Homo sapiens: one gene and its partners. The protein of the gene in region 4 purifies or fractionates together with the protein of the main gene of each other region. This does not show direct contact. Each region holds a gene or a part of one and is shown on either strand. Other genes may lie near its edges. The genes, in order: COX7B, WARS1, FLG2, NIPSNAP2, EHD4, NPEPPS and NAP1L1.

Region 1 (3,625 bases), on a different chromosome or scaffold from region 4:
AAAAAAAAAAAAATTAGCTGGGCGTCATGGCATGTGCCTGTAGTTCTGGCTACTCGGGAGGCTGAGACAGGAGAATCACTTGAACTCAGGAGGCAGAGGTCGCAGTGAGCTGAGATGGTGCCACTGCACTCCAGCCTGGGGGACAAAGTGAGACTTCGTCCCAAAAAAAAAAAAAAAAAAAAAAAAAAACCTATTTAAGAAGCTGCACAGCATTTGACTTTAATATTAACATAAAGGCTAAAGTGATCAAGCTTAGTTTCATTTACAAAGAAACAAAACCTACAATGAAGGTTTCAAATGTACTTTATTTCTTCAATAATGCCATATCTTAATGGGTACACAGTGCTTTAATTTGGCATCAATTATGAGCTGTTTTTTAAACAATTCATTATTACACCAGCTGGGATGATTACTGATTCCTCCATTCCTTTGGGGTAACTCTGCCAACAGGGGACAGGTTCCATTCTATTCCGACTTGTGTTGCTACCTGTAAGAATTAAAATGCTGTCAGTTACGTGTTTAAACCAGAGTACACTCTCTCGGAGACTATTTCTTGAAAATGACAGATATTCTGTTCTATAGGTTAAAAATACACAGAAACTCACCTGGGATCTAATACCCTCCATATAGGCCAAACCTGATTGCTGTCCTAATTTTCTAGAGCAGTCCTGTTGTTCAATAGAACTTCTTGAGCTGAAGGAAATGTTCTAGATCTTCACTGTTAAAAACAGTAGTCACTAGCTACATGTGGCTACTAGCCACCTGGAATATGACTAGTATCACCAAGGAAATGAATTTTTAAATTTTATTTAATTCAAATTTATACTTCACATTTCTATACTACCCACTCAATACACTGATTCCCTCAACCACAACTACCTAAGTAACTGCCAGAGTATTTTATATTCTCTGTATCACTAAGGAACATTTCACCTCCAAAAGCTCCTCTGATCAAACATTTGTTCAACATCTGTTTATCCTTCTAATTAAGCACACTTTAATTTTTTTTTTGAGACTTTTTTTTTTTTTGAGACAGTCTCGCTTTATCGCCCAGGCTAGAGTACAGTGGCACGATCTCAACTCACTGCAACCTCCACCCCCTCCAACTTCAGGCGATTCTCCTGCCTCAGCCTCCCAAGTAGCTGGGACTACAGGTGCCCACCACCACGCCCGGCTAATTTTTGTATTTTTAGTAGAGATGGGGTTTCACCATGCTAGTACCAAACTCCTGACCTCAGGTGATCCACCCGCCAGGGCCTCCCAAAGTGCTAGGACTACAGGCGTGAGCCACCATGCCCAGCCTAGGCACACATCTTAATATTTGATTTCAGGAAGATCAAAACAAAAACTAAAAAGGCCTATTTATTTAAATAAAGTTTATTACATTAAGGATTAATTTGTATCTTTTTAAACCAACTTATGCATTTATTAAGACTTCGGGCCGGGCGCAGTGGCTCACGCTTGTAATCCCAGCACTTTGGGAGGCCGAGGTGGGTGGATCACGAGGTCAGGAGATCGAGACCATCCTGGCTAACACGGTGAAACCCCATCTCTACTAAAAATACAAAAAATTAGCCGGGCATGGTGGTGGGCACCTGTAGTCCCAGCTACTCGGAAGGCTGAGGCAGGAGGATGGCGTGAACCCGGGAGGCGGAGTTTGCAGTGAGCAGAGATCGCGCCACTGCACTCCAGCCTGGGCGACAGAGCAAGATTCCATCTCAAAAAAAAAAAAAACAAAAAACAAAACAAAAAAAAAAAACACAGACTTCAGGACTCCTACTTTTAGCCAGTAAGTAACAGTGACTGAAAGATAGATTGTTAAATGTAAGATGTAAAGAAACTAAAATATAAAAAGATACATTACATCTCATCTGTCACGAATACTGTGCTAAGTTCTGAGTGTAAAATTTTAAAAGAAAAATTGTTAAGTGAAGTTATGTCCAGGAAGGCGATCCAAGACAGTAAAAATCCTGGAAACCATGAACAAAAAAATTACTGATAGAACTAAGGATGTTTAATTTGAAAAAGAAAATTGAGGAGATATGATAGCAATTTTCTATTATCTGATGGCTGTTATATGGAAGTGGGTCAGAATTTCTGTGCTTCAATGAACAATGGGTAGCATAGGAAAAAGGCAGATTTTAACTCACCATATGATCCTTTTAACAGCTACACAAGGCTGGGCACAGTGGCTCACACCTGTAATCCTAGCACTTTGGGAAACCAAGGCGGGCGGATCACCTGAGGTCAGGAGTTCAAGACCAGCCTAACTAACATGGTGAAACCCCGTCTCTACTAAAAATACAAAAATCTGCCAGGCGTACTGGAGGGCGCCTGTAATCCCGCTACCTGGGAGGCTGAGACAGGAGAATCACTTGAACCCAGGAGGCAGAGGTTGCAGTGAGCCGAGATCGCGCCACTGCACTCCAGCCTGGGCAACAGAGCAAGACTCCGTCTCAAAAAAAAAAAAAAAAAAAAATAGCCAGGCCTGGTGGCACACACCTGTGGTCCCAGCTACTTGGGAGCCTGAGGCAGAAGAAGTGCTTGAACCCAGGAGGCAGAGGTTGCAGTGAGCCAAGATCGCACCACTGCACTCCAGCCTGGGGGACACAGCAAGACTTCTTCTTAAAAAAAAAAAAAAACAAAAACAAAAAAAACAGCTACACAAGATGGAAAGGGCTGCCTTGTGATCCAGTAAGCAATTTATTACTGGGAATGTTAAGAACAGAAGATGGATGAATGCTGGGGGGAAAAAATCCCCTGCACTGTGTGGGTAATTAGATTACACAATCTCTCAAGTCCCTCCTAACTAGATATGTACACTACTATGTTAAGACACTTTGAATGCATAGACTGAGAATGAAAAACATCTGAAACAGAAATTATTAATCAATAGTACTTACATATGTCCATGTAACAATACAGAAAGTGGCTCCACTAGCTAATACAGCATTACCGTATTTGTCATGAAAATCAGGTGTACGTTTCTGGTGGCTCTGCCTTGCCATTGTTTGCTGAATGCTTCGAACTTACAGGAAAACGAAAAAAGAATACAGAAGCATATTATCAATTGTCAGGTAAAGAAAACATATGTGATTGATACTGCCAATCAGGAAAGCCAAGGAAGTTAATTTTACAGTATTATGTAGTTCAATAAAATGTTAAAACATATTGTAGCTATTAAAGCAGTGTACTTTGAAATGCAACAAAAATAAGATGAATTGACAGATGGACAAATACATGATAAAACAAATAGCAAAATGTTAACTGTAGAATCTTTGTGGTGGGTATATGGGTGTTCATACGATTCTTCCAACTCTTCAGTATGTCTGAGAGTTTTCATAATAGTGTTGGGGGAAAAAAGCAAAGAATGAATGATGTCAGTAACATTCTCTACAAAGTGGTATTTGCATAACCCCTGAAATTTTGGCTCCCATTGATTAATTTGAATACTTATGACTTAAATTTTCATTAAAGTTTACTCAATAGAGCCCAACAACTTACAACATACAAGGGCAAATGAACTCAAATGAACTTCAAATTAAAGCACACTAAATGCTTATGACTGTAAAATTACTACAGTAACAAAAAAACTCGCCACAACTAGAGTAATCTTGATTTTTAA
Region 2 (4,979 bases), on a different chromosome or scaffold from region 4:
TCAGCCTCCCGAGTCGCTAGGACTACAGGCGCACGTCACCACACCAGCTAATTCCTTTTTTTTTTTTTTTTTGGCAGAGAGGAGGGCTCACTAAGTTACCCAGACTGGTCTTGACCTCCTGGCCTCAATCGATCCTCCCCCCTCAGCCTCCCAAAATGCTGAGATTACTGGCACAAGCTACCATGTCTGGCCTTACCCATCCTTTTTCTGACGCTTGTTACCTGAGGAACTTGTCTGTCCCAGGTTTCAGTTCAATCAGTGCCTTGGCTTTCCCAACTCTATTCTCCTGTGTCTCCGAGGATGGGGGGTTCAAAGCTCATCTGCCCCCACCTCTCCTGCAGTGAGCCCCACAGTAGCTCACACCCAAGCCTCACAGGAAGAACAGCAGTGGGTCCCCCACTGGCTGTGCGCCCCCAACCGGCTGTGCGCCTTGGCCTTTCCCGGGTCCAGAATCTGACAGCACTCACACCTCTGACTTCCACACTTGGGCTTCTAGCCAGTGTCCAGGCACAGGATGAGCAGGACTGAGGAGCGTGTCTGTGTCCTCTTCTGGTGCAGGTCAATAAGCATGCGTTTTCTGGAGGGAGAGACACCATCGAGGAGCACAGGCAGTTTGGGGGCAACTGTGATGTGGACGTGTCTTTCATGTACCTGACCTTCTTCCTCGAGGACGACGACAAGCTCGAGCAGATCAGGAAGGTGAGCAGGGAACCCCAAGGGCCCACAGCCGCCTTCTGCCACCCACTCCTGCCCATGGGGCCTGGAAGGCTCCAACAGCCAGGCATGAAGGCTTGGTCGGAGGTGCTCAACTGAAACAAGGTGAAAACTGAGTAGACTCGCCCTCATGGTTTTTAGGCCTGGGCTCAGAAGCCTCATGAACAAATCTCGAAAGAGCAGATACAAATCACTATTCATTTAGGAGCCACCCAAAACAGTCTTGCTTTATTAGTCATCAGAGAAATGTAAGTTAACGTGATCAAAGCTAAGACAGTTGAGTATAGAATTAGTAGGGGCTTTTGTGTTGCCATTGACTATTTTCAGTGATTATGAAGCAGATGCTTCAAGGCACACTCAAGTGAGCAGAGTGTTTATCAGCACAGCCTCAGGAAGCAGTTTGGTACTGGGTACAAAGAGCCCAAAAATGTTCAGAGCTTCTCCTCAGGTTTTCTCATTCTTAGATTTTTTCCAAGGAAATAATCCTGAGTAAGAGAAAGCTTTCCACACAAAGATGTTAAAAATGATAATAGCAAAAAGTTCAACACAGACTCAGTACAACAGAGGAAACGTTAAATTAGAATTGTTACAGGGTGGATTATTATGCGGGCATGAACTATTTTAAGTGTTCATATGCAGGGCATGGTGGCACACATCTGTAGCCCCTGCTACTTGGGAAGCTGAGACAGGAGGATCCCTTGAGCCCAGGAGTTCAAATCCAGCCTGGGCGACATAGCAAGACCCTCATTTCTTTCTTTTTTTTTTTTTTTTGAGACAGAGTCCTGCTCTGTCACCCAGGCTGGAGTGCAGTGGCGCAATCTCGGCTCACTGCAAGCTCTGCCTCCCGGGTTCACACCATTCTCCTGCCTCAGCCTCCCGAGTAGCTGGGACTACAGGCACCCGCCACCATGCCCGGCTAATTTTTTTGTATTTTTAGTAGAGACAGGGTTTTACCGTCTTATTCAAGATGGTCTCGACCTCCCGACCTCGTGATCCACCCGCCTTGGCCTCCCAAAGTGCTTGGATTACAGCTGTGACCACCGCGTCCAGCCAAGACCCTCATTTCTTTTAAAAAAAAAAAAGTTTTAGTGACACAGGAAAATATGCCTATGATAGTGAAAAAAGGATACCAAATGAAAACTCAGGGAGGAGTTAACTATGTTTAAATGAAATGCACAGGGAAAGAAATGTGAAGAAAATCTACCAAATGTTAGCGGGAGACCCACCTCTGGGCATTTTTCAGGTGGGCAATTTGTAGGTGATTTTTCTTTACTTTGCTGCTGCTTTGTGGTTTGGGTACTTTATTAAATTTGCTTAATGAGCATGCAGTACAATCAGAAAAAGAAAAAATTAGCAAGATTTGGCTGGGCGCAGTGGCTCACGCCTGTAATCCTAGCACTTTGGGAGGCCGAGGCAGGTGGGGGGAGTGGATCACGAGGTCAGGAGATCGAGACCAGCCTGGCCAATATGGTGAAATCCCATCTCTACTAAAAATACAAAAATTAGCCAGGCGTGGTGGCAGGCACCTGTAATCCCAGCTACTCAGGAGGCTGAGGCAGGAGAATCACTTGAACCTGGGAGGCGGAGGTTGCAGTGAGCTGAGATCATGCCACTGCACTCCAACCTGGCAACAGAGTGAGACTCCATCTCAAAAAAAAAAAAATTAGCAAGATTTTACAGAAGCCATAAGGCTGCCAGGAATTGTTGTTGTTTAGTGCCTGGGGGAATGGCCCCTAGCATCGGTAGGGGTGGGGACTGCCCTCCCCATTGGCCCTTTCACTGTGAGAGGCCAAGTCATGGCTATCGTCAGAGCCAGGTTTCTAGCCGTTTTAGGAAAAGTGTAGCTGAAGGTATAGGTTATTGTTGTGGTAACAACAGATCTCACTTCTGAGTGCCACCCACGTGCCAGGCTCTGCATGGGTGGTGTGGGCTGAGCTGGTGCCCGAGGCAGGAAGGAGCCACTCAGGACATGTGGAGCCATCTCTCACGTGGCTGTCTCCCTCCGGGCAGGATTACACCAGCGGAGCCATGCTCACCGGTGAGCTCAAGAAGGCACTCATAGAGGTTCTGCAGCCCTTGATCGCAGAGCACCAGGCCCGGCGCAAGGAGGTCACGGATGAGATAGTGAAAGAGTTCATGACTCCCCGGAAGCTGTCCTTCGACTTTCAGTAGCACTCGTTTTACATATGCTTATAAAAGAAGTGATGTATCAGTAATGTATCAATAATCCCAGCCCAGTCAAAGCACCGCCACCTGTAGGCTTCTGTCTCATGGTAATTACTGGGCCTGGCCTCTGTAAGCCTGTGTATGTTATCAATACTGTTTCTTCCTGTGAGTTCCATTATTTCTATCTCTTATGGGCAAAGCATTGTGGGTAATTGGTGCTGGCTAACATTGCATGGTCGGATAGAGAAGTCCAGCTGTGAGTCTCTCCCCAAAGCAGCCCCACAGTGGAGCCTTTGGCTGGAAGTCCATGGGCCACCCTGTTCTTGTCCATGGAGGACTCCGAGGGTTCCAAGTATACTCTTAAGACCCACTCTGTTTAAAAATATATATTCTATGTATGCGTATATGGAATTGAAATGTCATTATTGTAACCTAGAAAGTGCTTTGAAATATTGATGTGGGGAGGTTTATTGAGCACAAGATGTATTTCAGCCCATGCCCCCTCCCAAAAAGAAATTGATAAGTAAAAGCTTCGTTATACATTTGACTAAGAAATCACCCAGCTTTAAAGCTGCTTTTAACAATGAAGATTGAACAGAGTTCAGCAATTTTGATTAAATTAAGACTTGGGGGTGAAACTTTCCAGTTTACTGAACTCCAGACCATGCATGTAGTCCACTCCAGAAATCATGCTCGCTTCCCTTGGCACACCAGTGTTCTCCTGCCAAATGACCCTAGACCCTCTGTCCTGCAGAGTCAGGGTGGCTTTTCCCCTGACTGTGTCCGATGCCAAGGAGTCCTGGCCTCCGCAGATGCTTCATTTTGACCCTTGGCTGCAGTGGAAGTCAGCACAGAGCAGTGCCCTGGCTGTGTCCCTGGACGGGTGGACTTAGCTAGGGAGAAAGTCGAGGCAGCAGCCCTCGAGGCCCTCACAGATGTCTAGGCAGGCCTCATTTCATCACGCAGCATGTGCAGGCCTGGAAGAGCAAAGCCAAATCTCAGGGAAGTCCTTGGTTGATGTATCTGGGTCTCCTCTGGAGCACTCTGCCCTCCTGTCACCCAGTAGAGTAAATAAACTTCCTTGGCTCCTGCTCTTGTCATTGTGCTCTGTCTGGGAGGTCTGAGGAGGGAGCAGAGACCCCTCCCCTCACCCTTCTGTGGATGACCTTGAGTCTGCTGGAGTCAAAATTTGGGGATGAAAGCGCACAGTCCCAGGAACCCCATGGTGTTGTGCCACAGCTCCCAGGAATGGGCTTGTGCTGGGAGAGCCCTTAGCAGCATCCTGGTGCGGGCTCCCTCTCACACCACATTTCTCATTTCCAGCAGCTGATGGAGAATGCAAGCAGAGGTTGTCCTCGCTTTTCAGAGGAGGGGCTGGCCGTGGGGTGCTTAGTGGTGCTGTGTAGTGACGGGGAGCACAGGCTGGGAGCCAGGTCGGGCCCCATTCACATGAGGCCCAGGGCAGAGGCCGAGCTGCAAGGGAGCCCTGGGCTCATTCTACCGGCCCATCCTTATTTTGCAAGTAGGGAAACTGAGGCTTAGGAGAGGAGAACATGACTTGTCCAAGGCCATAGGGTGACTCTGATACAGCGAGTCTGTCCTGACTCTTGGTGCTTTCCACACACATACAGAGGGACCATTTTACAAATGAGGGAACTACGGTTCCCACCCTGGAGGCTGGAGGCCTGGGCTCGAGTCCCACTCAGGTACCCGGGTGCACCATGACCTCAAGTAGGCTTCCTCTCCCGGTCTCGACTCCTGCTGGCCTGGGCCCCACCCCTGCCCTCCCCTGCTCACCTGGCTGGCTATGGCCAGTGGGGGTGAGCCACCCACAGAGGCCACATAGCTCACTAGCCTGTTGCCTTGGGCAACTAATATGACTCCTCGTCGCTCTACTGCACCTGTGACGCAAGTGCAATGAGGGGTGACAAATGGAGTCAGTGACAGCTGCTGCTGTCATTGTCCACCCAGCCACAGCATCTATTGGCAGGGCCCTGGTGAGACCCTGGCCCCAGGGAGGAGTGAGCCAACACCAACCAGCTTCTCCCCTCACCGGCTGTGTGACTCTGGCCAGGTCACTTAACCTCCCAGGACCTCCA
Region 3 (4,854 bases), on a different chromosome or scaffold from region 4:
ATATTCATGTTGACCATTACTACAAGACTGGCTACCTCCAGACCCATATTGTCCACAGCAAGAGGACTGACTTGAGCCTGTTCTCCATTGTCCTCCACAGTTCTGTGGTTGACCATTTTCTCTAGCTCCATATCCTCTCTGACTATAGGACTGACTACAGGGGTTAGACTCAGGTTGACCACATCCAGAGGGCTGACCTCCTGAGACACAGCCATGGCCTTGTCCTCCCTTAATTCCTGACTGACAGCCTGACTGAATATAGCTAAATTGATTTCCTTGCCCTCCAAATCTATGTGACTGACAAGAACTTGAAGCATTTTGTGGCCTTCCACACCCACTTGAATTGCTATAACCACATGCATGACTTCGCCTCCCACTGTCTCCTGAACCTGAACAGCTAGACCCAAGCTTTTGTTCTCTAATTCTTGACTGAGTAGAGTTTGATTCATGCCCACTAGTCTCCAATCCACATGACAGACCACCATGACCTTTCCTTTCCCAACTGTTTGATCCAGATCCAGATTCATACTCCTCCCCAGATTCCCTAGAAGGGCTAATGTGTGACTTGTTTATTCTTTCTCTCAGTTCTACAGAGCTGGAACCATGTCTGTCTTTGCCACCACTCCATGAATGACCACAGCTGGACCTGTGGTATCTTTTCTGAGATCCCTCTTGGTTCCCAGAGCTGGATAAATTACCTTGTCTTCCTAGCCTCCTGGAGTTGGACCCATGTCTACATTTCACAGTTCCCCTTGAGTGCCCAGAACTATATCCATGCTCCTCTCCCTCACTCCAACTTGAATGTCTGTAACCTGATTTATGTCCTGGTGTATCCTCTTCATCCTCTTCTGTTTCACTTTCTTCTTCTTGGTGTCGGTGACCACGCCTATGCTTCTTTGACCCTGAAGCTTTGCAGTATTCTTTGCTGAGGACCTTGTTGCAGGCCATAGTCAGCTTGAATATCATCAAAAGAAACTCAGTAAAGTCCAATCTTCTGTCATGATCTCGATCCAGCATATGCATGATGACATCCACTGTGTCTGGATCATCTGGGTTCTGTATATGAGTGACACACCAAGGGAGACCTGGTCAGCCTAACCTGCATACTCAACTAACACATTTAAATAGCGCTGTGAAATTATGGATGTTTGACATGATGTAGTTTTAGTCCAATAAAGGATTACTTTAGGTTAATAGAACCCAGTAAATGTTAAGGGTTAATAGAAAATAAAGACTACTGGGATCCTCAGAAGAAGACATTTCAAGGATTTAGGCTAAAGGATTAAGTGCTTAGGTAAGGCCTACAGGAAGGAGTGGAATAAACTAAGTTCAGTAACTGGTATTTCTAAGTTTTACATAAATTGTAACTATTACATGTTAATATCTTCCATGTTGGAATTTATCATCTATTATTTTGAAGTTAATAACTGAGTCTTTTTTTTTTTTTTGAGATGGAGTCTTGCTCTGTAGCCCAGGCTGGAGTGCAGTGGTGCGATCTCTGCTCACTGCAAGCTCTGCCTCCCAGGTTCACGCCATTCTCCTGCCTCAGCCTCCCGAGTAGCTGGGACTACAGGGGCATGCAACCACGCCCGGCTAATTTTTTGTATTTTTAGTAGAGATGGGGTTTCACCGTATTAGCCAGGATGGTCTTGATCTCCTTACCTTGTGATTCACCCACTTCGGCCTCCCAAAGTGCTGGGATTACAGGCATGAGCCACCGCGCCTAGCTGAGTCCTTTTTAAGTAGATGGAATAAAATGCTGGCATTTTATTTTTGATTCTTAATCATGGCTATTTTGTCAACTCCCTATGTAGATGATTTCCCTTTCTATACTTTTTTTTCCATTTGATAGGATAATTTATTAATTCGTGTCCTAGTATAATTTTATTTTCTGCTTTTTCTAAGGAAAAGCCTGGGTGTATGAGAAAGTCTGAGAGTCTATGAGGTAGGAGTGCATAGGTGGAAAAGTGAGGACGAAACATTCACTTTCTTTAAAATATCTGCTGCTTTAACAGACTTTCTGGCATCCCCAAAATACCACTCATAGAGTTTGCTTAGAGTTCACTGGGGCTGTGCACTTTTTAGCTGATCTGGGTCATACAACAGAGCTTGTACAGGACTCCAGCAGCCTTCAGTTCTGGCACATGGCTCTCACCTTCAGAACTGGATGAAGCTCTTTCTCCAGAAGTTCCTTTAGTTCACCCTTGCTCAGTGTGCCACACTCCCCATCTTGCTTGGTGTATTTGTAGAAAACATCAATTACGGTGACAACACTTCTCAAGAGGTCGGTCATCTTTTTGCAAGTTTAAGTGAACCTGGACACAGAAAAACAAAGAACCCTATTATTCATATTCTCTCCTTTTATCAGCAATTTTCATTTTAATAATAACCAGCATGATTTTTTTAACCTCTTGTTTTTTAAATCTCAAAACGTAAGAATGGGCCAGGGATGATACAACCCCGTTTAACACAATGAAAATTAACTTTGTTAACTTTGAGTTACTTTTCTGTGATCAAGTCTTGGCATGTTACTGGTTCAACTGAGAATAGACCTCAAGTCTCTATATTTCCTGTCATGGGTAAGTATAGTCTCTACATAGTATCTCTACACTTTGAGTGTGTTGGCATTCTGGGTGTTGTTCTAAGGCTTCCAAAATTTCCAGAACCAGCCAGACACCATTGCCTCAATCTCTCTTTCTAGTTTCACTGCTTTTCTTGAGTCAAAAGTGACAGACCTTCCACCATGCACATCTGTTTATCCTCTGGGCACCAGAAGCTAAACTGGACCCTTAAGGCCTTCAGCAAATTAAAAATGGGCAAAGGGGCTCAAAATAGCTTGGTGTTTCATAGGCATGAGACAGTAGAACTCAGTAGAGCTTAGGAACTCTCTTAATGTCAAGCACTTGACCAAACACTGTTTTCTTTAATTAATCAAGAAGAAGAGCTCAGCAATGCAGGCAGCAGTTTAACTAGTGGATAATTAGATCTTGGAGCTCTGGGAACCAACACTGAATAAGGAAGGGACTCTGCAACAGACCCAGCTGCCTCCCAGTTTGAGCTGGACAGCCCAGAAAAGAGGGCATGGAAAAAGACTCGGAACAGACTGTGGAATGGCCTAGAGGAAGGTGAACTTTTACTTGCATTATTCTTCTCCATAAAAATGAACTTAACTACAAAAAGGCCCCAGAATAAACTAAACTAACCAAACAAATAAGCAAACAAAAAGAAAAGAAAATGAAAGAAAGAAACAAAAAAGAAAAGAAAGGCAAAATATACATGAACTCTGCCTTAGCTTATATCCCTAGACTTCTACTATGGACAACACCAAATATTCATAAATGTAGCTGGATGAATTTTCTCTCACCTGGTTCACCAAAGGAACAAGTAGGATAAAGCCTGATGCAGCTTGCAGGGTGACGATGGATTGGGATAATGACCCTTATATAGCTTATAGTGATTATAGTGAATGAGGTGATTCATTTTCCATCAAACCTAACTCCACCTCTACATATTTACCTTCCTCCTTCACATTGTTATCTACAGATGATTGCAGAAAGGCTAGTACCAGCCCCACCTTCCAGTACGAGGACATGGTTGCAAGATACCTTTTTTTTCAGGGTCATATACATGTGAAAAGCACAGACTTTGTTTTAGAGGACTCATGTTATACATTTCTTTTAACTAGTACCCACAGAAAGTAGCAGAGTGTAAGATACTTGGAAGGTGCACAATAAATGCTTATTTAATTGAAAATGAACCTGAGCCACTAGGTTCATCTAATTCATGTCTTTTTTGTAATAATAAAAAGTGACATTTATTGAGAATTTACTATGTGCTAAATACTTTAAACAAACCATCTCAATCTTTAAAAAATCTGCACTTTTAGTTATGGGTACATAGTTGTATATAATTGTTGGGTACATGTGATGTTTTGATATGGGCATACCATGTGTAATGATCAAATTACAGTAATTGGGGTATCCAGCACCTCAAGCATTTCTTTGTAGTAGGAACATTCTAATTCTACTATTTTAGTTATTTAAAAATATACAATAAATAGTTAACTATAGTTACCATATTATGTTACCAAATACTAGATCTTATCACCTCATTTAATCTTCACAACCTTCATACGAGATATGTATTTATTATCCCATTTTATAGAGACAGGTTCTGGAAGCATAAGGATCTTCTCCAAGGTCATAGCTAGTAGGCAGAGAAACCAGAAGTTGAACCTGTATCTACCTTATTGCAATTGCTGTTTACCATTATACTAACTTACCTCTGTGTATTTATCATATATAACTATCATGCAAAAATTATGCACCATTTTAGGAGTGTAAGGCCCACTCAAACGCAAATAATATAAAAAAGTAACATACAGAGTGCTGTTAGGAAGAGAGGAAACATTCTCTGACCTTGTGAAGGCTCATTTCTAGGCTAGAAAAGTGTAATTGGCTATATATAAAAATAATGTTTTCAGATATGTTCAGGGTGAATTTAGAGTGAGCTTTCTTCCAGCACTCTGCGATCCACTGGTAGTCTGGCATGTTTAGGGCCTGGACCCTTGGGAAAATGTTCACTTATGTACAGAAAGTATATCAAATACACTTGAGGGTAACAAAAATAATCAGAGAGCTGTAAGTCTTAAGCATGGAGAGCCAATTCTGCTGTACTTTGCTACCAGGTGATAATGATGATGATGAGGAGGATAGCAGCTACCATTAAGTGCTAAGTGCTTACTATCTTCTATACATGGTAGGTTTACATGCTTATCTATTTATTCCTCAAAATAACCCCATTTTATAGATAAGGTAATAAAAGCATAGAGCAATGTAAACATTTGTTACAAAT
Region 4 (3,468 bases):
ACCCTGTATCAGCTGCCATCCTACAAGATGCTATTAAAATTACAACAGATCAGCTGGGCGCAGATCACCTGTAATCCCAGCACTTTGGGAGGCTGAGGCAGGTGGATCACGAGGTCAGGAAATCGAGACCATCCTGGCCAACAGGGTGAAACCCTGTCTCTAGTAAAAATACAAAACTTAGCTGGGTGTGGTGGCGCCTGCCTGTAATCCCAGCTACTCAGGAGGCTGAGGCGGGAGAATCGCTTGAAACCGGGAGGCGGAGGTTGCAGTGAGCCGAGATCGCGTCACTGCACTCCAGCCTGGCGACAGAACAAGACTCCGTCTCAAAAAAAAAAAAAAAAAAAAAAAAAACAGATCCTACCTGGATATTTGTTTTATTTGTGGGAGGTAGGAAAAGTCCATACTGTGAGGAGAAATGGTGATTTCTCAAACGTTCGCGTAAGCAGCAAAATCAAATACAATTATATAATTATAACATGTAATTATATGTTATATAATCTCTTGAACTGAAAGACAAGGTAACACCTACTTTCTAGGACAAATTACTCTTTTATTTTCTTGGTAGTATAGGGGCTGAGATACACTTTTTTTTTTTTGAGACGGATTCTTGCTCTGTCACCCAGGCTGGAGTGCAGTGGCACAATCTCCACCTCCCAGGTTCAAGCGATTCTCCTGCCTCAGTCTCTCAAATGGAGACAGGTTTCATCATGTTCGTCAGGCTGGTCTCGAACTCCCGACCTCAGGTGATCTGCCCACCTCAGCCTCCCAAAGTGCTGGGATTACAGGCGTGAGCCACTGCGCCCGGCCTGAAATATACTTGCCATGCAACATGGCTGGTACTGATTACCTCTACCAATGCCACTGGGTTACATTCAGCCAACTGTTTTCTTTTAAAAATCAAGCAAACAGGGTTTCATAATATACTTATGTATGTGCACATGCATGTATTATGTACCCAGATACATACTGTACATACAGGAAGTTTAATTTATCTAATTTCAAAATCACTCTTTAATTGATGTATTAAGTTCTGATTTGGGATACTAACAATTCTGATGGAAAAGGAAAGCTTAGAAAAAAATTTTATTTGTGTAATAAGTTTTCAGAGAATATAGAAATCTACAAAAACAGGTAATGATGTAAAATTTACAACATCCAAGGGTCTGAAAACTGTAACAGATGATATACCTATTTGAAAGCATGGATATTCTACTTTATTGAAAAAAAGTCATGTAAGTATTAGAGAAAAATTGACTATCTCCCTTCCCCCCACAACCTGATAACTCACTATCCTAGCAACATACTATTACAAAACCCACCTATTAGTGTCAGGGTGAAAGAACATGATTGAAACAGTAAGACAAAAAGCATATTTCATGGCTGTTAAGAGATTACCTGTGTAATATACCAATTCCTCCCAGCCATGTTTGTGCCATGCTGCATTCCGTATGTCTTCCCTGGTCTGAAGATCCCTGTAAGCTTAAAAATAACCACACAGAGAAGTAAGACTTAAAACACATACACTGCATTCCACCCATACATCCGTTAAAGTCTTGCTTCACCTGGACATCTAGTTTTCTCAGGGACTACTTCAGGTGTGTAATATACTGGGCTGGGGAAATTCTGAGCAAAATTATATTAGGCCACGTGGGAAAAGCAAACTTTCAGTCTTTTTTTTTTTTTTTTCTGAGACAAGGTCACTCTGTCAACCAGCCTGGAGCGCAATGGCACGATGATGTTTCACCACGGCCTTGACCTCCTAGGCTCAAGTGATCCTCCCACCTCAGCCTGCTGAATAGCTGGGACTACAGGAATGTGCTACCACATTGGCTAATTTTTGTATTTTTTTGTGCCCAGTCAGATGTCAAACTCCTGGGCTCAAATCATCAAAACGCCTCAGTCTCCCAAAGTGCTAGAATTACAGGGGTGAGCCACCACGCCTGGCCCATTCTTAAGTTAAAAAAATTATTTGTTTGTTTGTTTGAGATGGGGTCTCACTATGTTGCCCGAGCTGGTCTCAAACACCTGGACTCAAGTGATCCTCCCGACTCAGCCTCCAAAACTGCTGGGAATCGAGGCGTGAGCCACCACATCCAGACACAATTCCCTCTTAAGCTTTACAATCTAGTGAATCTAAGATATACCTTTATAAACCAAGTGAAATTCTCCAATAACATGTTAAATTCATGACCAGAAACTGTGAGACCACAGATGAGCAATGTCAGATCAATTTTACTCAACATTTATCTCGCACTACACTGATCTGGGCAGGGAGCGTGTTCCAGCGGTGAAGCCCCAGGATATGAGGCAGGCGAGGTCAGTTGTGGAGAGTGCCGTGGCCCATACAAGGACACAGTGTATAGGGGAGCAGGGCAAGCAATGGGAGAGCTGTGGGAAAGGTGCAAGCTGACCAGGTGGGTGTTGAAGTTGAAAAGGACATCACTGACGTAGGAATAGGAAGAAAGGCGCTTCAGGTGGAGGGGGATCACCTGTGTCATGGTACAATTCACAGGTATCTCATCCAGATGCCTTGGTTTCTTTTCTTTTTTTTTTTTTTTTGAGACGGAGTCTTGCTCTGTTGCCCAAGTTGGAATGCAGTGGTGCGATCTCGGCTCACTGCAACCTCCGCCTCTTGAGTTCAATCGATTCTTCTGCCTCAGCATCTTGTGTACCTGGGATTACAGGCATGCGCCTCCATGCCTAATTTTCTGTATTTTTAGTACAGATGAGGTTTCACCATGTTGGTCAGGCTGGTCTCTTAACTCCTGACCTCAGATGATCCACCTGCCTCGGCCTCCCAAAGTGCTGGGATTATAGGCGTGAACCACTGTGCCCAGCCAATATCTTGTTAATTACATTTTTTTTTGAGACAGGGTCTTGCTCTATTTGCCCAGACTGGAGTGCAGTGGCACAGTCATAGCTCACTGCAGCCTCAAACTCCTGGCCTCAAGCAATCATCTTCAACTTGCTGTTGCTCTGTGAAGCCTTGAGTCCTCCCGACAGGGCAGAGACAAGAGGTCTGTCCTGCATTCCCCACAGCCTCTATGAGAGCTCCGCCATTCACACTCTGGTGCCTGCCTGTTTGCCATTCCAGGATCCTGCATCTGGGAGGCCCTCTCCGGGCAGCTACAGGTGCTGATGTGAATGGAGCATGCACCTGGCTTGACCTCTGCCCAACAGCCAAAGGGATGGAACCTTCCTCCATCCAATCCTGCCCTTCTAGCACCTGTGCTTATTCACATGCCTGGGAGGGTTGCACACCATATACAGCCGCAACGGTAATAACCAGCACCACACAAGGCTCTGGGGGCTCAGGAGGAGTGATGATGTTCACTACTGGGGAAGGGTGACATCTGGGGCAGGCCTGGAAAAATACCAAAGATGGTGCCAAACAAAAGTGTGTGGGGATGGAAATGGTGAGGGGGTCAATGTCATGAGACAGTGGAACCACGTCTACAAAGGCAGGCA
Region 5 (5,046 bases), on a different chromosome or scaffold from region 4:
ATATTCGGCTAGGAATTTGGAATTCACAACCTTTATTAACCCCTGGCAAAACTTCCCGTTTGCATGTCAAATCACATTGAAGCCTGAAAATTAGCTTTTCTTACTGGTTTTTCCAATAAGTAATAGCAAAGCCCACTTATCATACTTAAACTACAGTAAAGAAAAGAGGTGGTTCTCTGCAGTGATCGTTTAGTGTGGCCCTCAAACATTAAATATCCCGAGGTCTCCTTGGTGGGTGGCAGGATTTAAATTCAATCAAATCCTGTCCTAGTGTGTGCAGTGTCTTCGGCCCTGTGGACACAGGTGAATGAGGGACCAGCCCTGCCCTGGGCTGTTGAGAAGAGATCAGTCCACCCAGAGTTAGACATTGTTTTTGTAGAAAACAGGCATTTATTATGTCTAGGGTTTTGTGTTTTTTTTTTTTCCTTACAGGATAAAAGCCTTTATACAGAAACAAAATGGAACCTTTCATATAAAACCTTTTCTTTAAAGGCTGTGTGGTTCGTATCATGAATGCCCATCACGAGGCAGGATTCGGGCACATACCTGTACTTCTGCTCCAGAGTGTGCGCTCCCCAAATCCCCTGAGTAAACCTCTCTGGACTGCTGCTCAGACACCTGCGTCAGGTGGAGGTGCCTCCCCCTCTGTGGGCACCAGCTTGGGGAGGTAGGTGACTTTTCCTTGCAAATCTCCCTGCCTCATCTCCAGAAAATTGCATACCTGCATGGCCTCTCTGCATTATTTATGCAGGAAGAGACACGAAACAGCAATGGCCACATGGTATGGGGGCCTGCTGGCACCAGAAGTGAATGAAATCAGAACCGTCCCACTGAGTCTTCCAAAAGGCACATAATTTTTTTTTTCTGTCACCTGCCTTTGGTGACAGGGTCAAAGGCACAGATTGAAGAGAAAATCTTGATTTGGGAGAAGCATTTATATCCAGATGCCTACCCTTACACTCCCTAGCTTACTTTCTACATAATTTAGTTTTAAGAGCAGGAAATGCATAACATGGTTTTTAGTCTTAACAAGCACTTAAATTCATTAGACGCATAGAAAAGAACCATTTATTATTTTATTATTTTTATTTTTATTTTGAGAGGAAGTCTCTGTCACCCAGGCTGGAGTGCAGTGGCGCAATCTCAGTTCACTGCAACCTCCGCCTCCCAGGTTCAAGTGATTCCCCTGCCTCAGCCTCCCAAGTAGCTGGGACTACAGGCACCCGCCACCACGCCCGGCTAATTTTTGTATTTTAGTAGAGATGGGGTTTTACCATGTTGGTCAATATGGTCTCGATCTCCTGACCTCGTGATCTACCCACCTCGGCCTCCCAAAGTGCTGTAACCTAAGCAGACAGTTCTGTGAATGCGTGAGGACCACCTGAAGTCTGCAGCCACGGTGGAGGTCACCAAAGGGTGAACTGAGAGAGAAGAGGGAATTCACTTGCCCAAAGGTTTACAGATGCCCAGGCAAACTGATTTTTCCATCCAGAATTATCTTGTTCTTTAACTCTCCTCAATTGTCATATATAAACATGAATTTATATACATGTGTGTCACATGAGTATGTCGTTTTAAAACAACGTGTACATATGTAAGTTTTGTCTGGATACAGAAAGCTGCTTTAGAGGGCAGCAGGTTGAGGTCTCTGATTTCTCCGTGGAGGAAAACCTCTCAGGCACTGTGATCTCCCTACCTCTGCGCTCTCAGGTGGGAGAGGCGTCAGGCAGCGGAGTCCTTTCCCTGCTGGCACCTGGTAATGTTCTTGGAGAGAAAGGAAAAAAAAAGGAAATCATTTGGCCACTTTTCTTAATATCCTCTTACATGCAGTCATTCATCAAGAAAAGTTGACTGGAAAAGAAAACACTAGAAAATATGAGGGATGGCGACCAAGTGAGGACTTGTATCTTCCCAGGACCAGTACAAAGTTCTGTGAATGTGTCCACACCACCAGCTGTCTCCCTACCCCACACGGCAGGGCGGCAGGGCCGACCCTGGGGCCTGCTCACCATCACCGTTGCCCTTCCTGCACCACCCCAATTTTCAAAGAACCTCTTCCACAGAGTGTTTATGTATAGGAGAGAGGGTGGAAGTACCTAAACTCTAGAACTACAACATCTAAGAAGCTGAGGCCCTGTTTTCTACACAGCATATGGTATCGCATAACACAAACCTTCCGGTCTTGAGTTTAAAGGGAAAATGAAAACTCCAGCCTATTGCTCCCACAGTCTGCTTCCAAGTTGTCAGCCTGCCAGTGAGGGTCTCCTGACCCCGTTTGTAGAGAAACACTGCACTAAGACTTGGGAATCTCCCCAGCTCCCAGGGAGGGGTGGCACACAACAGCCTTCCAACCTGCTTCCGCCTCCTGCTCCAGCCCTGCAGCGTCTGTCAATTCATTTCTCAACTCACCGCACTTGGATGGCCTGGGGGCAGGGTTGCTCTTCTGGGGGAGGGTCATTCATTCAGTTGGCTTTTGGCTTTCCTTTCTCCGGGCTGGGCCTGGTTCTCTTTTGAACACTTGTCGTGCTGCAGCAAGAGCATCTTTGGATTTGGGGCTGTGGAGCTGTGGTTCACCCGCGGGAGTCACAGCCGCGGCCTGGACCTTTCCACCTCGCACCCTCGCTCACCCTCCTTCATGATGCCTGGAGGATGCCTGAGACAATTGCCTTGAAGATGAGGAAAGTGTTTCACTGTTTATTTTCTCCATGGGATGTAGCAGGCAAGCATGCTTAGGACAGAAAACCACTGAGTTTACTCAGGTAAATGCGGGCCTAATACAAGAGTATTGGGTTCCAATGTTGGTTAACCAATGCAGTTAATACGCAATGCTTCTATTTTTTTTCTTTTTGTAATCTTATTTAGAAGTTTCAAACAAAAAGACATAGTCTGCTGATCAATAAACATGGAGCTGCCCTCTCCCACTGGCTCATTTTCCAGTGGCTGCGTGCTGGCCTCTCGGAGCAGAGTGTGGATCCCTGGATCCAGGTTGAACCGGGGGAGAAGAGTTAGGGAGAGGGTGTGCCTGTGAGCCCCAACTCTTCCTGTGGAGAGAAACCCAAAATGCAGCCGCTTCAGAAGGAAAGCGGCCCCATCAGGTGGGGACAGAAGAGGGTAGGCAGCAGAGGCCAGGTCTGTGGACAAAAGCCCCACTTCAGAGTGGTTGGAAGCCAGGACAGGAGGGACTCATGGAGGTGACCGCTTCACAGGAGTCCTTTCTCCAGTCGTGCTAGGGAGGAGCCCCTGCCTGTCCAGCACTGCCCCTGCCTCTTGCTGTACCTTGCCAGTGTGCCCTCCCCCCGCCCACTACCATAGTAGGCATCTGGCTTTTCCCACCAACCCATCTACCTTTTTGGTGGTCCAGACCTACAGTCTCCTTGCAGAGCACTCCTCCTCCCACCCTCACTTCAAGTGAGGTTTGGATGAGATTGACCACATCCCCTTGGTCACAAATATTGGCTCAGGAATGGACATGTGGCCCTGTTCAAGCCTATGAGAGCCAGGACCCCCAGACTTATGTTAGAACTCTTGAGAGAGATACTCTGTCTTCTCTGAACCTTGCAGTATATAGAAATGAGCCTATTGATGCAACAATATAAATGGCACTGAGAGGGGTGTCCAGAGCTGCTGGGGTCAGGGGAGGGAGGTCAGCCTGGCAGAAGCCATCTTGTGGAGCATGAAAATGAAAGAGACCTTGAGAAAGGCCAGAGGAATCCAGGCCTGTGGTGACAACATTTGAGCTGCTGGATCAAACCTCACCTGAAGTCCTTCCTATTCCTACTAGATATTTTTTTCCACTGTGTGGGCCAATGCATTCCCTTTATACTGTGTAAGCCAGGCATGGTGGCTCACACCTATAATCCCAGCAATGCAGGAGGCTGAAGTGGGAAGATCGTTGAGGCCAGGAGTTCAAGACCAGCCTGGGCAACCTAAGAAGACCCTGTCTCTAAAAAAGAATTAAATATAAATAAATAAATAATAAAAATATAATGTTTAAACCAGTTTCACTTGAGATTTTAGTTACTTGCAACATAAATAATCCAAACTTTGTTCCGACCCACAGGGTTCTCATTTCACCAGGGGCTGCAATCAGTCGTGGCCAAACAGGAGCCAGTCCTTGCATTGTATGCAGTGGCTTTAGCTGCCGTTGAGCTAGAAAGGAAGAAAAGCAGTCCACAGCCCCCGCCAACAGCTTCAAAATGCCAATCCCTGTTGAGGTCTATGTGCGAAGCACCACGCAGTTCAGTCTGTCCTCCCCGCTCACAACATCACACAGGACTCCACGGGCCGAGCAGTTCAGTCTGTCCTCCCACGCTCACAACATCACACAGGACTCCATGGGCTGAGGGTCTTACTAGGAGAAGGAACAAGCTCAGTCTCCCTGGGGTAAGCGGGTGGGATGAGGGACTTCCTAGAAGAAACAGGATTTTAACTGGGGCAGGCAGGATAGGTGAATGTGGATGATGGAGAATGGGAAAGGACGTTCAAAGCTGAAAGAGCAGCTGAAGCCCAGCCTTGGGGCAGGAGAGCTCTGGTCCTGCTCAGGAAATGGTGAGTGGCCCATGGAGAGCACCCAGAGTGAGGGGGGCAGACTAGCCTGGTTAGGTAAGCTGGCAGGCTTCCAAGGCCTGGCTGAGGCAAGGTCTGGCAAGTCTGGATTTTCCTTCCCAGGCTGTGGGAGGCTTCACAGGCACGAGCAGAGCTGCACTGTGGAAAGGTGCGGGGTGGTGGTGTCCAGGATGCCGAGTTAGGGGGTCCGTGATGAGGACCCCCAGGGGCAGTGAGGGCAGAAGGGGGGGTGCACGGGAGGACCGCCACAGCAACTGCTGCGAGCAAGGGAGGGACGCAGGGTGTCTGGAAGCCAGCCGCTGCAGAAGGGGCCTGGCAGGGAGAGGACAGCAGGAGAGGAAGCGTCTCTCAGACGCAGGAAGCCGCACCCCACCCGAGACCACGGCACCTCTCAGCGTCACCCCTGACTGCCTGCAGTGGGCCCAGGCGGTTCAAGTGTGACTCATCCCTAGCCCAGCTCTCAAGGGCGCGCTGAGCGGC
Region 6 (3,755 bases), on a different chromosome or scaffold from region 4:
CCCTAATAATTTAACACCCCATGGTCTTTTTTTTTTTTTTTTTTTTGAGACAGGGTCTCACTCTGTTGCCCAGGCTAGAGTGCAATGAAACGATCATGGCTCATCACAGCCTCAACCTTCTGGGCTCAAGTAAACCTCCCACCTTAACTTCCTGGGTAGCTGGGACCACAAGCGTGCACTCCCAGGCCAAATTGTTTTTTCCTTTTTGTAGAGATGGGGTCCTACCATGTTGCCCAGACTGGTCTTGAACTCTTGAACTCAAGCAATCCTCCCACCTCAGCCTCCCAAAATGCTGGAATTACAGGAATCCAACATTTTTAATACAGTAAACCAAACAATTTCTAAGTTTACAATTTATCACAATGCTTAATGATTAAAAGTTGAATAAACTTTTCTAATGCAGTACACCTGGTTTCACAGAAAACAAAGCAACTCTTAAACACCAGCTGGCAAAATGATAGGGCTTTTCCTTTGAATTAGTCACCACAGGTGTGAAAGACAGAATGACTAATCCATCTGATTAAACATAGACCTTTTAGAAATCAATAACCTTATTTACACAGATGACAATTGCTACTGTTCCAAGGCTCCTAATCATGGTTCAGTTCTCAGGGCCTCAAGTCTTTTTCCATTCCATCGCAGAGTAGTACCAACATTTATACACCAGAAACCTGGGGATTATCCTGGCTTGTTTTTCTTCCTCTCCCAGATATGCTCACAACAGAGAAGCCAATCAATAAATATTGTTGAACTAAATGGTTAACAAATTCAAGCCCCTGAATCTCCATTATTCCATCTCCTCCACTACTGCCACTACCCTACTGTAAGCTATTCTATCATTCTTGCTAGGAGAGTTAGCTTCCCAACATCTTCTCTTCCCCATTCCAAACTATTATCCACATTGCAGCCAGACTGAAATTTTTATAACACAAATCAGATCAAGGCACTGCCTTGTTTATAAACCATTCGAAGGCTTTCCATTTTTAGGACTTTTTTTTTTTTTTTTTTTTTTGAGACAGGAGTCTCGCTCTGTCACCCAGGCTGGAGTGCAATGGCACGATCTCAGCTCACTGCAACCTCCACCTCCCGGGCTCAAGCAATTCTCCTGCCTCAGCCTCCCGAGTAGCTGGGATTAGAGGCGTGCACCACCATGTCCAGCTAATTTGGGGTTTCACCATGTTGCCCGGGCTGGTCTTGAAGTCCTGACCTCAGGTGATCCACCCACCTCGGCCTCCCAAAGTGCTGAGATTACAGATGTGAGCTACCATGCCTGGCCATTTTTAGGAAATTCTTAATATGGCCTATACAGCCCTGCATGATGTCTTTCTCTAAACAAAAACACAGAGATGCTACAGTACATTATCCCAACACTATAATTACAACCAGGTTATTGTTTTTACTTACTAGACTGAAAAGTGAAGAGTAAACAGTATTTTCCTTACCTTAACCTCTCCAGCCATTTTATCAACTGCAAATCCCTCAACTGATAGCTGCAAAACAATGGTTTTAAACAGTAAGTGAAACCAAGAGGCTGAGAACAAACTTCCATTTACCCTAAAAATAAATCATTCTGTTCTCTGCCAACTTCAGTCTGTTATAAAGGATGTGTGATGGGAGATGGAGAAGTCCTTAAATAAAGCCAGTAACTATTTAAGGAAACTTTTTTTTTTTTGAGACGGAGTTTCACACTTGTTGCCCAGGCTGGAGTGCAATGACCTCATCTCGGCTCACCACAACCTCTGCCTCCCAGGTTCAAGCGATTCTCCTGCCTCAGCCTCCCAAGTAGCTGGGATTACAGGCACACACCACCACGCTCAGCTAATTTTTGTATTTTTAGTAGGGACAGGATTTCACCATGTTGGCCAGGATAGTCTCGAACTCCCGACCTCAGGTGATCTGCCCACCTCGGCGTCCCAAAGTGCTGGTATTACAGGCGTGAGCCACTGCACCTGGCCACAGGAAACATTTAAAGAGCAAAGACCACAATGTATGGGTGTAGTGAATCATGGATGTCACTAAATAATATCCATGATTAGCAAGCTACTCAAAGTTTTTCACATACCTTTATTAGTCTGGATATTAAGAATCCTCCCTGGTATCGGTTATAAAGTTCTTCCCAGTTGTCCTTTATGAATTTCCAAGCAGCTTTCCTACCATGCTTGCTGCCTCCAGCTACTCCACCAATTACCGATACAGTGTCCTGTGGACGTACCTCTTCCTAAAAAAAGAAAGAGAGCTAAAAGTCTAGTGTATCAAAAACATATTCTGGTACCAGAAAGTGCACCATACTGTGACACTGAAGTAATCACACTGAAGACACTTATTCCTTGTTTTAGGAATAACTGGAACCAGAAGTTCTCAGCAAAGAAGATAATGTTTAAGCTAAAGATAACCAAAATGAGAATGAGGTACTGAGACAGGTTCAGACAGACAGACTGCTCAACAGATACTTGCTTAGGAGCCTATAGGTTTAAGAAAGGAAGAGACACAAAGTAAGCAAAGGCATAAGCCAGTTTCCCAGTTTTCAAGAGTCCCTGTCCTCATAGTTTCCATTCTGGAGAGACAATTTGTTTACTCTCCCAACTATTCTGATTCTCGCCACTAGTGGGAGAAAAACAGAAGTCAGTAACAAAAACTCAAGCCAGTTACTCTGGAAAAGGAAGCTTTAGTTAGGGTTAAGGCAGCTCAAGAGGATCAGAGCTGAATCAGAGACACTTCTCAGAGATGGGTAACGATTCACTTCTAAATGCAGTTTTCACCGTAACTTACTGAAAGTGCAAACGTGAGGACTTTTTGAATCAGGTCAGGCAAAAGAGTAGCGCCAAGGACTCTTTCGATTCGGTTTTTCTCTTCTTGCATATCTGCTTGTTTATGAAGCTACAGGAAAAAAGATAAAGATAGGAATAGTTAACTCTCCCTTGGATGTTCTGCATATGATTATATGAGCTTCTTCCCCAGTAAGGTAAAACTTAGGTTCTATATTCTCACTAGGTAAGAATGGCAGGGCATTATATTAAAGAAAGAGAATACTTTTCAAGATGCTTTGGGCCAGGTGCGGTGGTTCACACCTGTAATCCCAGCACTTTGGGAGGCCGAGGCGGGTGGATCACCTGAGGTCAAGAGTTCGAGATCAGCCTGGCCAACATGGTGAAACCCTGTTTCTACTAAAAATACAAAAAAAAAAAATTAGCCGGGCGTGGTGGTGCCCACCTGTAATCCCAGCTACTTGGGAGGCCGAGGCGGGAGAATCGCTTGAACCTGGGAGGTTGCAGTGAGCTGAGATCGTGCCACTGCACTCCAGTTTGGGCAAGAGAGCGAGACTCTGTCTCAAAAATAAAAGAAAAAAAAAATGATGCTTTGGCACTAAATTTGTCATCTGCTGTTACAGTAAGTAAATCACTAGATGTAAATGCTACCAGATGAACAGCCTGTCATTAGTTCAGACCAGTTTAACATCAAGATCTAAGAGGTAAAATCTATCATAGCCAAATTCTTTACATCATTGATATCTGGCTAATGTTCTGTTTTAGAAGAACAAACTAATCATTAGTGTTCTTATACCAGATCATCAAATTAATTTATAATAGTGAAAAATTGAAAATGAATACTGTACTTATAAAAATGCATTATTGAAAGTTATATTTTAAGAATATATCATAAACATGTTCTTATATTTAAGTGAAGAAAGCAGACAAAGCAGAATTATCCTAAAAAATATATATATATATATGGCTGGGCACAGTGGTTCACGCCTG
Region 7 (4,421 bases), on a different chromosome or scaffold from region 4:
TTGGGAAGTGAGGTGGGTGGATCATTTAAGGTCAGGAGTTGGAGACCAGCCTGGCCAACATGGCGAAACCCCATCTTTACTAAAAGTACAAAAAATTAGTCAGGCATGGTGGCGCACGCCTGTTATCCAGTTACTGGGAGAAGGAGGCAGAAGAATTGCTTGAACCCAGGAGGTGGAGGTTGCAATAAGCCGAGACTGCACTCCAGCCTGGGCAACAGAGACTCAAAAAAACTATAAAAATAGGCTGGGCACAGTGGCTCAGTGGTTCAAGCCCATAATCCCAACAGTTTGGGAGGCTGAGGTGCGAAGATTGCTTGAAGCCAGGAGTCTAAGACCAGCCTAGGCAAGAAGACTCTGCCTCTACAAAAAAAAGTAGATTAAGCTGGGCATAGTAGCTTCAGATAGTCCTAGCAACTTGGGAGGCTGAGGTGGGAGAATAGCTTGGGCCCAGGAATGAGCTGCAGTGAGCCAAGATCATGCCAGTGTACTCCAGCCTGGGCAACACAGCAAGTCCCTGTCTCTTAAACAAAAAAACTATAAAATGTAAGGAAATAATGACTTTTTGAGTACAGATGGTGGTGCCAGGTTGAATAACAGTTCATCTGCATTATCATTCTTACAAAAAGGAAAAATATTTCCTAGGTATAAAAATACAACTGATGCTCTAGGGAGGCCCTGGCCGGGGAAACGAGTTGCATTTGTCGGCTCAGCTGGCAACAGTGGCGGGAGCAGAGCTGGCGGGGCCTGTGCAACTGCCTGGGTTTGTGAAATGGCTGCTGACGTTTCCGATTCCAATAGGGCTGACTGCAAAGGAGACCCAAGGAACAGAGCCAAGTTAGATGCTGATTACCTACTTTGAGTCCTTTATTGTGGAGTCTGTTCATTACCAATAGAGTACTGTGAATATATGCCTGATGTTGCTAAATGTAGACAATGATTAGAGAAGAATTTTCCAAATGAATATGCAAAACTTACTGTGGAAAATTCACCCAAACAAGAAGCTGGAATCTGTCAAGGTCAAGGAACAGCAGGGGAAGAAGAGGAGAAGAAAAAACAGAAGAGAGGTGGAAGGGGTCAAATAAAACAAAAAAACAAAGACGGTACCACAAAAGGTTACTATAGCCAAAATTCCCAGAGCAAAGAAATATGTGACAAGGGTTGTGGCCTTGTAACTTTTGAAATTGATCTTAAATCACACAAAGATTTTTTGCTCAAAAATTCTCCTGTGGTGCCTCAGTAACAGAGGAGGATGAAATTATCATTCAAGGAGACTTTACAGATGACATAATTGAGGTCATTCAGGAAAAACAGACAGAAGTAGATGATGACAGCATCGAAGATCTTGGAGAAGAAGTGAATTTGAAAATTTGTCTGTAGTTAATGGCCTGAACTGACAGTAGATATGGCCAAAGGGAGAGAGGCCTACATATATATATATATATATATATATATATATGTATTCTACAGTAAAACTGTAGACTGCCTTCGTTCTTGGCATTTTCCCTGTTCTGTACAAGGCTGCTTATTTTTTTATTGCCAAAGTCAAATAAACAGGAGAGACTGTCATGCTCATACATGAACAGAATTTAGTCAAATAAAAAATTTTGGTTATTTGGTACTTTTTTTTTTTTTTTTTGAGACGGAGTCTCACACTGTCGCCTGGGCTGGAGCGCAGTGGTGCGATCTCGGCTCACTGCAACCTCGACTTCCCGAGTTCAAGTGATTCTCCTGCCTGAGCCTCCCGAGTAGGTGGGATTAGAGGCACCCGCCTCCACACCCAGCTAATATTTTGTATTTTTAGTAGAGATGGGATTTCACCATGTTGGCCAGGCTGGTCTCGAACTCCTGACCTAGTGATTGGCCCACCTAGGCCTCCCAAAGTGCTGGGATTACAGGCATGAGCCACTGCGCCTGGCCTTTCTCTTTCTCTCTTTTTATTTTTTGAAAAACCCGGTAGACTTTGCGGTGACCATTTTTGTTGATTATTTTACTGATCTAAAGCTGAGTGATTTTTTAAAAGAATTTGAATTTGGCTTCCTCACCAATAATATGTCTCCTTGCTTCTCTGATGTGATAGTTTTGAGATGGGTGAGAATCTAATATATCTGTGGTTGAATTTGCTTTGCTGTTATCAAGTCCACCCTATGGGCACAATAACATACTGTTGGTAGGAGTTGTTGGAGCTATTCTGGAGATTATTTGGTAAAGTATACTAAAAGCCTTAAAACCACGTATGTGCACTGTTTGAACCAGTAAGCCACTTCTTTGAAATTAGAAGACATTAGAAGAAACAATAAGCCTTGCAATAAAACTTATGGATGAAAGTATTCATCACAATATGATTTATAATAAAAAATTGCAAATGTTATAAGTGAACAATTGGAAAATGGTTAAGGAAGTGATGGTGCACTGTGTGGTATGTTTATGTTTAAAGATGTGGTATGCATATGTTTAAAGAATCATATTTTCTAAGATTATTTGGAAACATGTTTGGTAATGTCAAGTGGGGGCACCCCAGATACATTTTAGACATTTAATCATCATCGTTCTGAGAGGAAGGCCATTCAGAGATGCTAGAGGTTCTTATTCTGGATATAAATTACATGAGTAAAATTCTACTAACCAATTAAAAATAATGTACAACCATGTTCAATATACAGTCCTGGAAATAGCAATTATGTCTTTTCACAAGAGAAAATGACAGTTTTAATGCTCCATCAGATGAATTCGAACTTTAAGTCAGGTGCTGCAAATTGGAAATAAGACTTGTGGTGTTTTAAACTGCTGTGGACACTTAAGAAACTTAGAACCCATGAAACCGCTGCTTATTGCCATGCAAATTACAATCTTGAATGACTGTTTTTTAAAAATAAAGTAATAGAAAAACGTGTAATAAAGACGTAAAATTAAAAAATGAAAAAATACAACTGGTTATATAATATTGTACTCCATCATTAAATGCTAACATTTCTGACAAGTCCTAAGATTTTATCATCTTAAAAACATACCAAAATAAAGTTGGTACTAACCGAAATCTCATCTTCTTCATCTGGTTTCCATTCACATTCTTCTTCCGTAGGTTCATAAATTGCATTAATAATTTCAAATCGCTAAAATGATTTAAAAAAAAAAGGCTGTATAAAAACACTGGCATCCAAGCTAAAACCAGTGGTTTCTCACTAAGAAGTCTTACAAATTTAACAAATGCATACCACAACTTTAACTGCTATTATTGATAGTTCCTCCAAGTGCTGCCTCTAATAACAATTTCAATGAGAGTTCTAAAGATTAACCTCTTCCAAGTCTGCTTATGTTTCTAGAATTCGTCTTCTAGAATGTTAAATTAAACAAAGTAGGAGAAAGCATTACCTTATCAAATAGAGGCTGATAGAGAACAGCATACTTCCTTTCAAGATCGTGAACTTCCTCATAGAATTTGGCTTCTATCTGTGCACATTTAACTTGCAGGTTTTTGAGAGCATTCACTCGTCTTTTAACTACCCTAGGCAGGCTGAAAGGTTAGAAATCAGTTATATAGCATCAGAGTAAAATGGAAGTCACACTTCTTTTGTCATACTGAAACTGAAGCATTGGAGTTAGTGAATGACAGGTTTTTTATCTGAAGCAAAAGGTAGATTCAAAGTAAATAAAAATCAAATAGATATAAATACATTGATCCACTGGCTATATTTCAAAAGTAGAAATGTAACTGGGTAAATTGATAAACAAAATGTAAATCATATTGTCAACCCTAAATCTTTACCCAAGTTAAGTGTTGGACTTGTCATTGCTGAAGTCATGGACAGACCATCTTAATTCTGAGAACAATGATTACTTGGATTTTTCTTTTACATATATCTCACCCATACAAGTTATTAGGAAAAAGGAGGGGAGCATAGACATATCAGGAAAAAGGACAAGATTCCACACACCATTATTTTTTTAGTCTCCATATTTAATTAGGAATTAGTAATTACATTATTAAATACAAGTGTAACATACTATAAAGAGGAGACATGTATTTTTAAAATAACAGCTTTAGGGCCAGGTGCTATGGCTCACAACTGTAGTCCCAGCACCTTGGGAAGCCGAGGCAGGTGGATTCCTTTAGCCCAAAAACTCAAGACCAGCCTGGGCAACATGACAAAACCCTGTCCTTACAAAAAATACAAAAATTAGCTGGGTGTGGTGGTGCATGCCTGTGGTCCCAGCCACTTGGAAGGCTAAGATGAGAGCATCACCTGAGCCTGGGATGTCGAGGCTGAATTGAGCAAGATTGCACCACCACTGCACTCCAGCCTGGCTGACAGAATGAGACCCTGTCTCAAAAATAAATAACAGCTTTGATGAGATAAAGTTCATACACCATACAATGAACTGTGAAGCACTATTTTGTTAAAATTTTATTTTAGGTTTAGGGG

The links.
Region 1: the proteins of NIPSNAP2 (region 4) and COX7B fractionate together in Homo sapiens (co-fractionation; one large-scale study listed by BioGRID). This does not show direct contact.
Region 2: the proteins of NIPSNAP2 (region 4) and WARS1 purify together in Homo sapiens (affinity purification with mass spectrometry, with the first as the bait; one large-scale study listed by BioGRID). This does not show direct contact.
Region 3: the proteins of NIPSNAP2 (region 4) and FLG2 purify together in Homo sapiens (affinity purification with mass spectrometry, with the first as the bait; one large-scale study listed by BioGRID). This does not show direct contact.
Region 5: the proteins of NIPSNAP2 (region 4) and EHD4 purify together in Homo sapiens (affinity purification with mass spectrometry, with the first as the bait; one large-scale study listed by BioGRID). This does not show direct contact.
Region 6: the proteins of NIPSNAP2 (region 4) and NPEPPS purify together in Homo sapiens (affinity purification with mass spectrometry; one large-scale study listed by BioGRID and IntAct). This does not show direct contact.
Region 7: the proteins of NIPSNAP2 (region 4) and NAP1L1 fractionate together in Homo sapiens (co-fractionation; one large-scale study listed by BioGRID). This does not show direct contact.

Annotation. Positions count from the first base shown.
Region 1 is NC_000023.11:77,902,046-77,905,670, reverse strand, and holds part of COX7B (cytochrome c oxidase subunit 7B, mitochondrial precursor), read right to left. Parts: intron 3,029-3,625; coding exon 2,904-3,028; intron 488-2,903; coding exon 410-487; 3' UTR 1-409. UniProt on the Homo sapiens protein: Component of the cytochrome c oxidase, the last enzyme in the mitochondrial electron transport chain which drives oxidative phosphorylation.
Region 2 is NC_000014.9:100,332,782-100,337,760, reverse strand, and holds the end of WARS1 (tryptophan--tRNA ligase, cytoplasmic), read left to right. Parts: intron 1-558; coding exon 559-699; intron 700-2,724; coding exon 2,725-2,886; 3' UTR 2,887-3,971; downstream 3,972-4,979. UniProt on the Homo sapiens protein: Catalyzes the attachment of tryptophan to tRNA(Trp) in a two-step reaction: tryptophan is first activated by ATP to form Trp-AMP and then transferred to the acceptor end of the tRNA(Trp).
Region 3 is NC_000001.11:152,356,592-152,361,445, forward strand, and holds the start of FLG2 (filaggrin-2), read right to left. Parts: upstream 3,416-4,854; 5' UTR 3,365-3,415; intron 2,316-3,364; 5' UTR 2,294-2,315; coding exon 2,156-2,293; intron 1,057-2,155; coding exon 1-1,056. UniProt on the Homo sapiens protein: Essential for normal cell-cell adhesion in the cornified cell layers. Important for proper integrity and mechanical strength of the stratum corneum of the epidermis.
Region 4 is NC_000007.14:55,995,377-55,998,844, reverse strand, and holds part of NIPSNAP2 (protein NipSnap homolog 2), read right to left. Parts: intron 1,480-3,468; coding exon 1,396-1,479; intron 1-1,395. UniProt on the Homo sapiens protein: Protein involved in mitophagy by facilitating recruitment of the autophagy machinery required for clearance of damaged mitochondria.
Region 5 is NC_000015.10:41,894,885-41,899,930, reverse strand, and holds the end of EHD4 (EH domain-containing protein 4), read left to right. Parts: 3' UTR 1-3,998; downstream 3,999-5,046. UniProt on the Homo sapiens protein: ATP- and membrane-binding protein that probably controls membrane reorganization/tubulation upon ATP hydrolysis. Plays a role in early endosomal transport.
Region 6 is NC_000017.11:47,617,472-47,621,226, reverse strand, and holds part of NPEPPS (puromycin-sensitive aminopeptidase), read right to left. Parts: intron 2,878-3,755; coding exon 2,770-2,877; intron 2,219-2,769; coding exon 2,063-2,218; intron 1,950-2,062; coding exon of another isoform or gene 1,855-1,949; intron 1,491-1,854; coding exon 1,443-1,490; intron 1-1,442. UniProt on the Homo sapiens protein: Aminopeptidase with broad substrate specificity for several peptides. Involved in proteolytic events essential for cell growth and viability. May act as regulator of neuropeptide activity.
Region 7 is NC_000012.12:76,056,769-76,061,189, forward strand, and holds part of NAP1L1 (nucleosome assembly protein 1-like 1), read right to left. Parts: intron 3,512-4,421; coding exon 3,370-3,511; intron 3,111-3,369; coding exon 3,030-3,110; intron 1-3,029. UniProt on the Homo sapiens protein: Histone chaperone that plays a role in the nuclear import of H2A-H2B and nucleosome assembly.